Homo sapiens: one gene and its partners. The protein of the gene in region 4 purifies or fractionates together with the protein of the main gene of each other region. This does not show direct contact. Each region holds a gene or a part of one and is shown on either strand. Other genes may lie near its edges.

Region 1 (3,500 bases), about 180 Mb from region 4:
ATTTGACACTTCTCCTCTGCTGCTGCCCAGACAACAGTATCTTCTTTCTTCTACTCTTCCACTCTTGTCCACTCCCGTCCCCATCCACTCTATCCAGCTGTCACAGTTATTCTTTTAAAACAAAAATCAGGCCATGCCACTTTCCTGTTCAAAGCCCTCATTGGCTTCCTATTATACTTAGAATAAAATATAAAGTCCTTCCTAACCTACAAGGAGCCATATGATCTAGCCTCTGGTGCCTGTTTGACCTCATTCCTCACCATAGCTCAGCGTGGGCATGCTGGCTCCGAAGGCTTCTTGCTGTTTTTCAAACACATGCAGCCTTGCTGGGACACCTGGATAGCTATAAGCAAAAGAATGGAGCCTGGACTCCTACCCCACTCAACAACCTAAAGATTAGAGCTGCAACTATAAAGGTCTTTGAAGAAAACAAAGGGGCTTGGACTTGACAATAAATTCTTATATATGGCACTAAAAGCACAAACAAAAGGGAAAATAGATAAATTGGAATTCATCTAAATTAAAAACTTCTGTGCATCAAAGGACGTTACCAAGACAATGAAAAGAAACCTACAGAATTGGAGAAAATGTTTGCAGATCATATATCTGATGAGGGTCTAGTATCCAGAATACACAAAGAACTCTTACATCTCAACAACAAAGACAAATGACCAAATTTTAAAAGGTGGCAAAGGATTCAAATAGACTTTTCACCAAAGAAGATATACAAAACGGTTAACATGCATATAAAAAGATGCTCAGCATCATTAATTTCAAGGAAAATGCAAGTCAATACCATAAACCCACCAGAATGGCTATAATAATAATACTAATAATTTAAAAACCAGAAAATAACAAGTGTTGGTGAGAATGTTGAAAAAATAGAGCGCTCATACATTGCTGGTGGGAATGAAAAATGGCACAGCCTCAGTGGAAAAGAGTTTGGTTGTTGCTCAGAAAGTTAGACACAGAATTAGCATATGACCCAGCAATTCCACTCCTAGTTCTATATCCCAAAGAACTGAAAACAAGTATTCAAACAAATACATGCACATGAAGGTTTGTAGCAGCACTGTTCACAGTAGCCAAAAGGTTGAAACAACCCACATGTCCATCAACAGATGAGTGACAAAACAAAATGTGGTCTCTCATATAATGAACTACTATCCCGCCATAAAAAGAAATGAAATATTGATACATGAAAACATTATGCTATGTAAAAGAAGCCAGTCACAAAAGGCACATACTGAATGATTCCATATATGTGAAATATCCAGAATAAGTAAATCTGCAGAGACAGAAGATGAATTGGTGGTTGCCACAGGCTGGGGAAAGGGGAGAGAATAGGGAGTGGCTGCTTAATGGGTATAGGGTTTCCTTTTCAGAGATGAAAATGTTTGGAACTACACAGAGGTAGTGGTTGCACAACACTGTGAATGTACTAAACTACCCTGAACTGTCCATTTTATAATGTTTAATTTCCTGTTAGCCCAGCTCAAGCCCTGGGCTCTGGCTGTCCCTCTGCCTGTGAACAGAGTTCCAGAGTCCTCCCCAGAGTTGTTCCTGGTCTGCCTTCCCTATGTTCAGGTCCCTGCTCACAAAGTCATCTCCTGAGGGGTTCTTCCTGACCTTCCCCCACTTAAAGTGTCACTGCTCCTCATCCACCCACCCATCTACACATGCAACAGCAAATTCTCACTCACCTTTCACAGCCAGGCTTGGCTGTTACCTCGAGCCCTAGGCAGAACTAGCCACTTCCTACTAATGTTCCTGCGGCCCTTTACAGTGCAGGGATCTGTCTGCTCACCGTGGCTAGAGGCTAACCCTTCCTCAAGGGCGGAACAGGTCTGTGTTCCCCAAAGTACCGGCCCAGGGGCTTACTCCCCAGCACCAAGCAGATGCTTGCTAAGAGCCTGCTGCTTGAACTGAAGGTAGTTGGTTCCTTCAGAAGGAAACGACTGTGTTGCTGCTTAAGAAGGCATTGCAGTTCCTTAGGACAAAGCCACTCTTTACCCTGAAGGGAGAGAGTATGGCTACAGTGTTAACTGTCCGGGCTCCCTGCCCAGCTGGCCTGGAGGAGCCAGGGCTACAGAAACCTAAGCCTCACCTGGAGCTCCCAGAAGATGCTGCGCGTGTGGCGGTGGTAGTAGTGTCTCAAGGGAATGTACTCCAGGCCCTCTCGGTTTGTCTTCAGATAGTTCTCCACATGCTTAAAGAACCACGGCTTGTAGTAATTGCCAATGCTATTCAGCTGAAATGACAGAGGGCATTGTGATCAGCCTGCAGACAAGCGCCCAGCACCATCGGGGTGTAACAGCGACACCCGGCTTCTGTTCAGCACTCCTGGCCTTTTCAAAGCTCTTTCATGTCTATTACTGCCTTTGAGACTCTTGAAAGCTGGTGAGGTTAGGCACAGCGGGTATCCTCTAGCAGAGAGAGCAGGAGCTCAAAGAGGTTAAGTGGTGTGTGCCCAGGGCCAAACAGTGAGTCCCCGACAGTCTAGAGAACTCAGCGACCCCGCCTAGCCTGGTGCAAGTGTTTAACAGAGTTAAACATTTAACTGCCCTGATGCAGTGCCCCATGCAGGGGAATTCCCTCCCTCCCTCCCTTCCCACCTTCCCCAAGGCCAGGGAAGCACGAACTCTGGGAATGGGTCAGCCCCTCAGTGCAACCCAGGGCTCATGGCACCAACTGGTCATGGCACTTTCCCTGCTGTCCCTGGACCAAGCTCCACAGTCCTCCGGGTACAGCACTCCCCAGGCAGCCACCATCGTCTGGAGGATGCTCACATGAATAAGGCTCATACCTCCCTGGCCCTGGGGGCTCCCACACCCAAATCTTCTATTGAGCTGATGTCTCCTGCAGCCCTAAATGGTCATGACTCAATGTGCTGTGTGCCTTGGGATGGCTGAGCTTCTCCTGGCCTCAGCTTCCTCATCCATAAATGAATTCTGGCAGATGCTCTCGGGGAGAGGCAGGGGGGATCCTGGAAAAGCACAAGCTTTAGGGTGGGCAGCTGGGGACACACCCAGGCAGGTCATCTCTGAGCCTGTTTCTTCACATGTAACATGACAATAAAAATACATACTTTGTGGGAGTTATTTGTCTATTAGAAATTACATACATATGCCCACTGTTTTTAAAAAATAGGACCATCTTTTTTTTTTTTTTGAGACAGAGTCTCGCTCTGTCGCCCAGGCTGGAGTTCAGTGGCACGATCTTGGCTCACTGCAAGCTCCACCTCCCTGGTTCACGCCATTCTCCTGCCTCAGCCTCCTGAAAAATGGGACCATCTTACACGTACTGTTTGCCAATTTGCTTTTTCCATTTACAACACACTTAGCAGAGCCTAGGCAGGTTACTTAGCATTTCTGGAAGACTAAAAGAGATGATGTAGAAAGTGCCAAGCACGGTGCCTGGTCCACAGGTGGCTGAAGTATCAGTCCCCACCCATTCCCTTGTTGACCTGCTCTACCCTACAGCCAGGCAACCCTTTGCCG
Region 2 (3,500 bases), on a different chromosome or scaffold from region 4:
CCGCGCCTGGCCTCCGTTACTTTGTTTTGTTTTGTTTTTGATAAGAATTCTTGCTATGTTGCCCAGGCTGGTCTTGAACTCCTGAGCTCAAGCAATTCTCTTGCCTTAGCCTCCTGCATAGCTGGGATTACAGGCACACACCACTGCACCTGGCATTCCCATGATTTTTGAGTTCATATTTTGTAAATTTTTCTGTTTGTGATGAAAAGTGCTCTTTTTTTCCTTTAAATGTGCGATTCTAAAAGGTTTGCTTCATTTTACTTGTGATTTAATTCTTCCTCAGGTTTGGAATATTCCTGAAAAGAACATATGTCACATGCCTTTCCTCTGTCTGGAGTTCTCCCTGCCTCCATCCTTGGTACTCAGCTTTCAGGTCTCGGCTTTGGTGTTCTTTCCTTGGTAAACCTTTCCTGAGCCCCCATTACACACTTTCAAACTCCAAGCACTGTTCCTTAGTAACATTTATCACAGTTGTATTTATATAATCGTTGGAGTAATTATTTGTCTTCCTTGCTAGACTCTAAACTCCTTAAGGGCACTGACATTGACGTGTCTTAAATGCTGCCTCCCTAGCACCTGACAGATGAGGGAATTTTATACTGGAATTGTTTTTTCAGTATTGACTCGGAAGAAGGAAACTAGAATTTCTCACTCTGGCTGTGCCAGAGCTGGAAGGGATTTGGAGTATATAGCATGACAGGTGAGGAAACTCGCCCAAGGCTTTCTGGAGAAGTTACTCAGTTGTGGCTGGACCTGCATCCTAGGTCAGTGCTGTTCCCTTTGTGCTGTATTTCCCCTTTAAGGAGCACTTCTGTCTTGTAAAGTCCAGGGGGCAGTTTATTCCCAGGGAGAATTGATTTGAGTGGTGTTAGAACTGTCTGAAGATAGCCTGGGGGCTCCTCTTCCCTTCAGTTGGCTCTGGGACCTCAGCATGGCTGCAAGATGCAGAGCAGGGCCACAGTGAACTGGCACGGGGCTGGTGCCCACACACCGAGGTCTCAGGCCATTTTCAAGTGGCATAGAAACACCTTGTAGCTGAAATGGTTGCAGAAATAGATCACAGAACATTATTAGTGACCTTAGATTTTATTTTGGCTAATTGGATATTAGCTAAAAAGGATTCATGTATCTTGTTTTAAATATGTTTGAAGGTTTTAATTAATCTGTTAGTTTATTATCTGTGAACAGGGAAGCATATTATTTGTTAATCAGTAAACTTCAGAGCTTGCTATGTTCCAGGTACCAGTATAGGAGGAGCTGCTTCTAGCCTATACAGTAAGTCCATTTTCTAAATGCATCAGAATCACCTGGGGACACTTGAAAATACAGAATCCTGGGCCCCACCCCAGCCTGTGGGCTCAGAATCTCCTGGGTGGGGCCTGGAAGTCTGTATTTGGATGGAGTTACAGAGGCAGGCTTGGGCGTCACTGCTGTAAGAAATCCAGGAGTGCTCTCCTGCTGGTCTCTAAGACCCAGTTCAGGCATCCTGTCCTCTGGGTAACCTTCCGTGGGGAGCATGATGCCTGGCTCACAGTGGGCGTTCAGGAACTGTTTGACTGTGACTCTTCCATCCAGGCTATTTTGGCTGTGCTGATCTGGGAAAGGCTGCCACATTCACCTTGCTAAAATGCTGCCTTTTTTTTGTCTTTTTCTTTTATTTTTTTTTTGTGATAGAGTCTTGCTCTGTCACCAGGCTGGGGTGCTGTGGTGCGGTCTCGGCTCACTGCAACCTCTGCCTCCCGGGTTCAAGCGATTCTCCTGTCTCAGCTTCCGGAGTAGCTGGACTACAGGCACCCACCGCCACACCCAGCTAGTTTTTGTATTTTTTAGTAGCGATGGGGTTTCACCATGTGGGCCAGGATGGTCTCGATCTCTTGACCTCGTGATCCACCTGCCTCAGCCTCCCAAAGTGCTGGGATTACAGGCGTGAGCCACCGCACCCGGCCAGAATGCTGCCTTTATTGTATCGCTTCCATTCAGAACCTCCAGTGGCTTCTGGCTACCTGTCCTCCCAGGTCATTTCAATGTCCTAGACCCACAGCAGTGGCTGAGCTTCCTGAATTCTTCTCATGGCGCTTTGCTTGCTCTGCTTCTGAGCATCTGTTGTCTTTCTGTCAAGTGCAGTCTCACACTTGTAAAACTTAGATCAAGACTTATCCCTTCCATGTGCCTTTCCTGCCAGATCAGGTTTGACAGAATATACCATGAAACCCCCAAATAATGGTGGCTTAAACAAGGTTGAATTTATGTCTCGTTTCAATGCAGTCCAGAGGTAGGCATTTCTGGGCTGGCATGGGGGCTTCGTGAAGCCACCACGGTCCTCGGCTCCTTCCAGCTCTGTGTTTCACCATCCCTGAGGGTGGCGCTGTCTTCGTGGTCCAGGATGGCTGCCGGGGCTGGGGCCATCACATCTGTGTTGCTGGGTCGCATTTACTCCAGTTTAGCCCAGTGCTGCTGTGTGTATTGTTTCGGGTCCAGTCTCATCACATGGTTCTACTCTACTGACTTCTGGGAAAATGATCACAGTGAACAGGCCTCAAGGCGCCTCTCATGTCTCCTCTCCTTCCCCATGCTGGCCAGCTCTCTGCAGAGGCGGTGGGGCCCACCAGCCACTGCTTGTATGGCCTCCATGGAGCACAGCAATATTGCTTCTTTGTGGTATTTGCCTTGTGCTATCAGCTCAAATCTTAACTGTTCAGAAAGACCTTCCCCGAATCTCTTGTCTAACGCAAGCCTCATGCCAGCCTTCATCTTTCCCATCACCTTGTGCATTTTTTTCTTTTTTTTTTTTTTGAGATGGAGTCTCGTTCTGTCACCCAGGCTGGAGTGCAAGGGTGCGATCTTGGCTCACTGCAGCCTCTGCCTCCTTTCAAGCGATTCTCCTGCCTCAGCCTCCCAAGTAGCTGGGATTACAGGTGCCTGCCACTACGCCCACATAATTTTTGTATTTTTAGCAGAGATGGCGTTTCACTATGTTGGCCAGGCTGGTCATGAACTCCTGACCTCAGGTGATCCACCTGCCTTGGCCTCCCAAAGTGCTGGCATTACAAATGTGAGCCACCGTGCCTGGCCTTTTCTTTTACTCTTTTTTTTTTTTTGAGATAGGGTTTCTGTCTGCCGCGCAGGCTAGAGTAGAGCACAGTGGTGTGATCACAGCTCACTGTAGCTTCAAACTCCTGGGCTTAGGGGATCCTCCTGCCTTAGCCTCCTCAGTAGCTAGAACTACAGGCATGTGCCTCCATGCACAGCTAATTTTTTTTAACTGTTTTGTAGAGATGGGATCTCACCTTCTTTCCCAGGCTGGTCTCAAACTAGTGATCCTCCTGCCCTAGCTTCCCAAAATGTTGGACTGCAGTTGTGAGCCAACACGCCCGGCTGTGCATGTCTTTTATAGCATGTATTCATTTTTTCATGTATTCATTCATAGGGTGTTGTTAAGTGCATATCCTGTGCCAGACACTGTTCTAGGTACTTGTGAACAGCAGGGAACAGAACAAGTT
Region 3 (2,692 bases), about 38 Mb from region 4:
TCATGATATTGTCTGCTTTCTTCCAGTATTGCACGTTGAAGGTAGCCATTTAGCTTAATACTTAAGCCCAACAAAAATATTCTTGTGATTTGAATACCAGGTGCTAGACTTTCATTGCCCCAAGTTTGCCGAATAGCTCTTCTAGCTTCTATTTGTCCAGGCTCTGCAGCTATTAGTAGTATTAAAAAAGGACTTTTCTCTTGGCATTTTTCAGGCTCATTAATAATATATTTGAAATGGTAAGAATTTGGATGTCCAGTACCTTTTTCATTGTAAATACTTCCATTGGCACTAAGTGTATTCTCCAGGCCTGTAACTCCTTGTGGTGACAGGTCTGTGTTATTAGAGTTAGTTGCTGTTTGAGGCCTCAGGGTTTGAGGGACTGTTTCTTTCCAAATGTTCCGAAGGGAGCTGTGGTTTGTCTCACTTTTTGTTGACCGAAATCCTCGGAAAGTGTATGTCACAGGGTTTTCTTTGAATCCAGCTCTGCCTGGCAGCCAGTCATGATGATTGAAAAACAAAAACATAGCAAAAAGAAACACTAGAGAAAGTACTCCAATAAGATGAGTGCGGAACAGAGACCTTTTGGCATTCCAGGTCATCTTTGCAAAGCAGCAGTGTCTTCTCCTCCACTGAAGCATGTTGTAAATATCCAGTAGTGGTATATGAGAGATTGGTGACCAAAAATGTTTTCTTCTCCTTAATACTATTCTTTGGCAATCATTTTCTAATTCAGTCACATTGTCTCTCTTGTAGTCATTCTATAAAAATGAAGCACAAAAGTTTACAGAACTGCCTGAAAGGGACTTTGGGTACTAATATGATCAGGGCAAATAGGAATGTCTTAAGCTGTGAAAATATAACCCAGGAACGAAGCTTGTAATTTATTTCCCCTTGGCAACATAACATCACTGAGAACAAGATTAATTTATTTAAAAATATACCTTTGTAGCACAGTGAGCATTTTAAAGAGATGAGGTGATGGATTCATTTCATTGTCTTGTTACACTGGTCATTTGTACTTTTGACCCAAGTTAAAGATTTAAAAGTTGAATGTATTCGAGAAAAATGTTACTAGATTTCTGAGAAGGGTTGTGTAAAAACGCCTTAAGAGCAGATGGAAAATTTATTGGCATTAATTAAAATTGATTTGACATACTATTGGTGGTATGGTGCACAGTCAGAGGCCTTTTTTGTAAAATGGTCATGTATCAGTTGTGGGACAGACGGTGCAAGGTTGATTATGGCAGAGTTCTGTTAGTCACAGTACACTGCTTGGCATGTTTCCATTGGCCCCTACTGTGTTGAGAAAGTCAATGAGAAGATGCACCTGTCAAAATTAATTTTCAGGGTCTAGTAACTTCAGTGTAGGATTTTTAGACAGTAATAAATGATTAACACTTTCAAAAATTTTAACTTTTCTTTGTAAATATGAAGTATTCATGATATAATTGTTCTTAGACTTAAGATTAATTTTAAAATACAGCATGTAAGTGTCTTTGATTATCTATGGCTTTGGCAGAACACTGTTACATATCTTGGTTGAGTCTCCATGTTAGAATTAAAAGAGCTACTTTGAAACCAACTGTTTAAAATTCTGAATTTCACACAATATATTTTTAAATATCCTTGAGTTGTGCTTTATTCTAAATTTACATGCAGATAATTTGTTAAACTTTTAGAACTTGTCATTAGCACAGTTAGAGCCCTATATTTTAAAAAGGTTATGAGATGGCAATATGTGAGGTTCATGATGGCATATATTAAGAACTGGTTATGTTATCTTGCAACAAGGTTTTCAGTGCATAGCACAGATTTGTTCACATTTGTTCTTAGTGTTTTTGTTGTTGTTTTTAGTTTTTGGGGACCAATATGTCGAGGGAGTAGAGGTGGGCAAAGAGGTATAGTTTGAATTCCATTAAAACAGGAGAAAACTTTTTGACAAGGAGTGATGAATATGTAATTTTAATTTTTCCAACTTTTTATTATGAAAATTACTTCTTTAAGCAAAAGAAATCAATTAAAAAGTTTTAATACAGGAGCATTTATTTGAAATTACAGTGTATGCATAAATACATGTATGTATTTAGCCTGTGATAATGAGAGAGTCATGGTTAATATTAAATTTGTTTAACCTTGGCATAAATTTAATTACTTCTAGGAAATAGAATTTACATGGAAATCCTCATGTAATTGAATAGTTATAAAGTAAAATTCACATACATAACGTTAAGTACTTTGAAAATATTGATTGAAAGTGTTAGATGTAAATGAATGAAAGTGCTATTATAGTAGCAGCCACTAGGAGGAGCAAGTAGGTGGGAATTTGAACAAATATCTAAGGTCCAACCATATAGGCACCAGCGTTTGAAATTTCTAGTTTCTGAGATTACAGAGTACTTTTAGAAGTTATAATATTTCTAAAATGTAAAAAAATTAAGCATTTTGAAAGATGTGAACAATTTTTTTAAGTTTGGAATTTTAAAAGCAAATCATCTAGTATGCTATTTGTTAGAATTTGTTTATATGAATTTAAACTCAGCATTAGTGTAATGAAAACCAAGGCTATTCACTGTACCAACAAAACATAGTTCTGCTGTAAGCTAAGCTGAAAATAATAGAGCTGAGCATTCTGATTTAGAAACTCAGTGTTTTCCTTCTTGTACTTTTAAATAGCTGGCCATTCTTTTTA
Region 4 (5,409 bases):
GAAGTCTGCCAACCTAAGTGAGCGTTTTTCACCATTTTCAGTCTTAAAAGCTTATTTGATATGAAAAATTAACATCTCCTTAATCTATAGTTGGTAATTTACCACCTACACTTTAATGAATGGAATAGGACTGACCGGCCATGTTTTATTTTGTATTTCTATTCCCCATCCTCCCATAAAAAATCAGCTTTGACTAGATGCAACACGAAAGCTTTCAGGAAGGCAGCTTTTCAGAGCCAGTCACTCAATACAATAAGCTTGTCTGGAAAGGCTTGCCAATGCTTCCATTTCACCCGAGGGCTGTGCAAGTATCCCCCAAGACAGAGCCCACCCCTCCTGCTAGCAGCCATCACCTCCCACAAACCTGCAGAGAGGACCGCACCAAGACTGCAAAGCAGGCTTCCGGAAGTGGCTTAAGCTAGCTTTCACTAGCACAAACCCCTTTTTCTCTTTTGTGTTCAACTGCAATCATCTCCATAGGCTTCCTGACACCAGCAGAGGCCCATCACAGACACAAATAGCATTTTTTAAATGGCTTTATTAAAGGCTACAAGTATAAAATATGACTAAGTTACAAGTCGTCAGTAAGAATTTATTACTTTTGAAAATGTTAATTAAAGAAAGGGAGACGCAAAGAAAGGGAGGCTCTTCCTGAAATCCACACAGGGGGGTGCGGCTCAGACGGGTGACAGACCCCCGCTGTTCCCAGTAGGGCAGCACCCCCAAACCCAGGGGGCCAAGGGAGGGGCTCCCAGATGAAACAGAGGCTGGTTGCTGATTTCTTGGGGGAACTTTTGTAAAAATGAAGACACTGAATCCTTGAGCTGAATCCCAGGTGCAGAGACTGGGGGGAGGTGGAGAATCCAAAATCATGCTCAGGTTTCTCCTGAAAAGTGTGTATTTTCTAAAAAATAAATATAAACTCCTGGTTTGAGAAACTCCCTCATGATGAATGGGAGGAAAATCATGGCAAATGGAGAGCTAAGAAACCATCTTCGCATAGACTTTGCCCAAGGTGTAGAGGAAGATCTGCCGGTCAGGCAGGATGAAGACCCACACAGGAGCCTGTGTCCTCCAGGTCGTCCCTTCTTCCAAAAGCACAGCAAAGCAATACAACTTGAGGACTCCCTCCAAGATTTCCTAATTTTTGATTTTACATTTAATCTCAGGAGGCTATACCATTAAGAAACATTATTAGAGTTATTGCTGGGTGCTGGGCCCCAGACGATACTAAGTGAGGCAGAAGCTTTCAATAATTCCTACAGCCCTCAGCACCAAGAAGAACTTGGAGGGAATATTGGGCTTGTTGAGAAAGTGGGAAAGAAATTAGAATTTCTCCCAATAGAAGAGGCAGATCACCTTGGCCTACTCTCTAGGACACAGGTCTTTCTTCTGTGCTACACCAACACTACAGAATACAAACTCATACATATACATTTGCTACCATAGGTTCTACAACAGCCCCATGCCCTCCAGGCAGAAGGTGGAGGCAGGTGGCCGCTGATTCTGAGGATCCCTGTGTGAACAGTGCCGTTAGCCCTGAGGGGAGCTGGCGCTTGCCCAGGCTGTGCCAACTGGGATTTCTAAGCTCCTTTTTCCCTCACCACCATGCTGAAACCTTTTTTTGCCTCACATATATCAACTATACTTAAATGGTACAGAAAGAACCAATATTTGAAAAGTTACAGTAAATCACTGAAGCAGAAAGATAAAACTATACCCCAAGGATCCAAATGAGGTTTAGGGACATAAAACAATTGGCAAGAACCAAATCAAAAGTTGGCTATGCCACAGCTTTGGCAGAAACTTTCCTGGAGATGATGAGGGGTTGAGGTGAGTTGCTATGTGCTTTATTTTGGAGCCAGATAAAATATTCTGGAAATCATTTCAGAAGGTCCTATGAAACAGGCATTTAAAAAAAAAAAAAAAAGAAGAAGACACACTTTGGTATTGAAACCGAGCGCTCACTGGCAGGTGTCGCAAAGATTAAGGCTTCAGGTGAGAACGCAGTGATGGCAACATGGAGATGGCGCCATACCGGGCTTGAGGCTCTGCTCAGACGCCTCCTGCAGGCTCACACGGCTCAGGGGCCACTGGGCAGGACAGCCTCTGAGTGCAGCAGCTTCCCTAGGGGAGGTGGACCACGTTGTACCACTGGGCAGCCTTGGTGTCTGCACCAGCTCCAAGAGATACTGCTGCTCTGACACCACGCAGGTCTCCATGGGCACTGCTGAGTTGACCGCAAACTCCACTCTTCCACTTCTGGTGGTGGTCAGGGCTGGGGAAGGTCCGTCATGACGCAACCTGGCTAGCCCTTGGGATAAAGAATGCCCACTGCTCCCATCAGTCCCATGCTGGAAGACTCTAACACAACTAAGCAGAAGAGCCCTGACCTCCAGCCACATCTGCCGTCTGCCCTGACTCCTGTAGGTGCCCAGTCCGGGGAACAACCAACAGGTCACATAAGCAACAAGAACTTCCAAGAGGAAATGGATATAAAACCAAGGAAAGTGGTAGCCCCATTGTTGATAATCTAGATACAAAATAATGAAAAGCTAGTACAAAACTCTTTAAACATGCAACTCTTTTTAAACAACAATCCATACTCTGAATATGTATCAGAGCAGGTTAAAGACTACACTGCTACATACCCGCAGTCTGTTCCCTGGAAATGGCGTGAGGGTGGAGGCTGGCACATGATGTGAGAGACATGGCTTCTGCCAGAGAAGCCCCGGACAGCTGCGAGCGCTGGCTGAGAACGTCGCTGGGGGCCAGTCTTTCCGGGGTCACAGCCAGCATGCTGATGTCATGGCTGATAACATCACCCTCAATCACCCACCAAAAGGAACCCATACGGTAAAAAGCGGAGGGGGGAGGGGGAATAATGGAGAAGGAGATGGAAATCACTTATATGATTTTTGTGACATGGTTGAAACACATCCTTTGAGGAGGGGGAAAGTTGGGTGGAGCTGGGAACAGAAGTTTTATTTACAAGATCTCCTGAATTATTAACAGACCTTAAAAATTCCAAATGGAAAACTTCTGTTATCAAATCACTGAAAATAGCATATATATCTGGTTCTACCAAAAAAGAAAAAAATCTGGCAATATTGACCAGTTTCCAAATGATTAAGAAAAGAGTGTCAAGAAACCAGTAAAATACATAGGAAAAGGTGGCCCTTTTTATCCTCCTCCACCACACCACTTTGGAAAACATTTTAGGGTTCTTCATTGTATTTTTCTAATACATTTTACCAATTGTCCAGAAAATCAAATCCCGTCTTCAAGACGACATTACTTGAGCTGACCTGTAGAAGGGACAAAAACATGGAAGTAAGACGAGCCTCTTTTTTTCAGTTACGTATAATCTAAAAACAGCATCTCATTTAAAACGACCCAGATAAAAGAGCCTACTTCTGTCTCAGAGGTTCCCTGACCTCAATTTATCTCAGTGCTTGAAATCAGAAGATTAAATACAGTTCAATGCAATCTATACTCTGCCAGCATCCAACACTAACCCCTCTTCAACCCCAGGCATGTCTGTGAGCAGCTTACAGACCTTACAGAGAAAAGAACAATGTCTCTGTATTTTTCTATAAATCTTTTCTGTTTCTGAATGACAGCCATGTTTAAATTTATTCATCCTAAATAAGAGAACAAATGATAAAGATATTCCTTCAAATATAAAACAAACATCACACACAAACACAACAAAAAAGAACTTGTAAAGTTGAGAAAGTAAACATAGTGTGGAAAGAATGTGAAGCTTATTTCTTTCAGATCTTGTGAAAGGTTATGAAGTGATTTTCCCAAACTCTAAGCTCAGCCTCCGGGGCTCAAGCGATCCTCTTGCCTCGGCCTCCCACGTAGCTGGGACTACAGGCATGCACCAGGCGTGCACCACAAGGCCTGGTTTAATGTCATTCTTCTTTCAGGGGAAAGGGCTTAACTGACAGGTCCCCTCTTGTGAGCATGGGCTGTCTCAAGCTGCTGCTGTTTTCATAAAACTTCTGACTGGCTTCCACTCAGCAGCCTGTTTCTGATGTCCCTTTCCTCCAGCCTAACACCGGCAGGCATTTACCTGGTGCGCCAAGGTCTTCTTGAGCAAAGAAACCTTGACTCTCCACCCTCCAAGCAGCCGGCCAGCAGAAAATGCATACATGGCGGCAAGAGCAGGCAATGGGCTAATGGGCTTGCCCTTGACACCTGTCTCAGGCCCAGTTTGGCTACATGTGAGACTGGTGCAGAGTGAGGCAAAACATGCAGAATGGAAGGAGTGCAATCCAGTTTTCCTTGTTCTGGTTTCCTTCCAGTTTCTTAAATGCAGTGGCATTTCACTGTGCTTTACTCAGAAATCTGTTCTCTCAAAGGAATTTCATGTGCTGTCTCCTACTCTCCACTGCCCACACAGAAACACGTTCCTGCTTCTCTTTAGAGTGGGGACTATCACCTATTTTATGGAAATACTTCTTTCAGAGGAAGCCCTCAGTGCCGAGTCTCAGAGAAAGAGTGCTGGTTAGGGAGGCAGGGAACTGAGCCTGTCTGTAAGGAGGAGCTGATGGGCAGGAGGATGTGAGACAGAAAACAGAACGGAGAGATGGGCAGGTACCGGAGAAGGCAGGAAACAAGAGGGCTGAAAGCACTAGCTTAAGAAGGTGCAGAAACACGAAGAGGACAGGCTAGAGCACTGATGTGGAGCCGAGGTGGGCAGAAGGTACTAGCACCGCTGGATCCTCCCTCCTCGGGAGGACAGCACGTGCAGCCATCTGCCGAGGGAGGTGTGGAAGTACTGGAAACCTGCTCTGGGGGACATTCAATGTTATCAGTGATGATCTCAACTCAACAACAAAATAACCAAAAATTTAAAAATGGGCAAGGGACCATTGGACATTTCTCCAAAGAAGATACACAGATGGCCAATAAGCACATGAAATGAGGCTCAACATCATTCACGATCATGGACAGGCAAGTCTAAACCACGGTGAGACACCACCTCATACCCCTTCGCATGGCACCAGCAAAGACACAGAAAATAACAAGTGTTGCAAGGGAGTGGAGAAACGCGAACCCACATTGATGGGAATGTAAAATGACGCAGCTGCTGTGGCGAACAGTATGCAGGTTCTTCAAAAAAGTAGAAATAGAACCACCATGTGATCCAGCAATTCTACATCTGGGTATGCACCCAGGAGAAGGGAAAGCAGGGGCTGGAAGACTTATTTGTACATACACGTTCACAGCAGCACTATTCCTAACAGACAACAATAGCCAGAAGGTGGAAGCAACCCAAGTGTCTGTCGATGGATGAGTGGATACACAAAATGTGGTCTAACCACACGATGGAATATTAGCCTTAGAAGGCAATTCTACACTTGCTACAACATGAATGAGCCTTGAAGACGTCACATT

Evidence for each region. The genes of interacting proteins can lie anywhere in the genome.
Region 1: the proteins of C1orf198 (region 4) and DHCR24 purify together in Homo sapiens (co-immunoprecipitation; one large-scale study listed by IntAct). This does not show direct contact.
Region 2: the proteins of C1orf198 (region 4) and XXYLT1 purify together in Homo sapiens (co-immunoprecipitation; one large-scale study listed by IntAct). This does not show direct contact.
Region 3: the proteins of C1orf198 (region 4) and B3GALT2 purify together in Homo sapiens (co-immunoprecipitation; one large-scale study listed by IntAct). This does not show direct contact.

Annotation. Positions count from the first base shown.
Region 1 is NC_000001.11:54,863,196-54,866,695, forward strand, and holds part of DHCR24 (delta(24)-sterol reductase precursor), read right to left. Parts: intron 2,252-3,500; coding exon 2,108-2,251; intron 1-2,107. UniProt on the Homo sapiens protein: Catalyzes the reduction of the delta-24 double bond of sterol intermediates during cholesterol biosynthesis.
Region 2 is NC_000003.12:195,264,660-195,268,159, reverse strand, and holds part of XXYLT1 (xyloside xylosyltransferase 1), read left to right. Parts: intron 1-3,500. UniProt on the Homo sapiens protein: Alpha-1,3-xylosyltransferase, which elongates the O-linked xylose-glucose disaccharide attached to EGF-like repeats in the extracellular domain of target proteins by catalyzing the addition of the second xylose.
Region 3 is NC_000001.11:193,180,922-193,183,613, forward strand, and holds part of B3GALT2 (beta-1,3-galactosyltransferase 2), read right to left. Parts: intron 762-2,692; 5' UTR 642-761; coding exon 1-641. UniProt on the Homo sapiens protein: Beta-1,3-galactosyltransferase that transfers galactose from UDP-galactose to substrates with a terminal beta-N-acetylglucosamine (beta-GlcNAc) residue. Can also utilize substrates with a terminal galactose residue, albeit with lower efficiency.
Region 4 is NC_000001.11:230,836,601-230,842,009, forward strand, and holds the end of C1orf198 (uncharacterized protein C1orf198), read right to left. Parts: intron 3,309-5,409; coding exon 3,252-3,308; 3' UTR 519-3,251; downstream 1-518.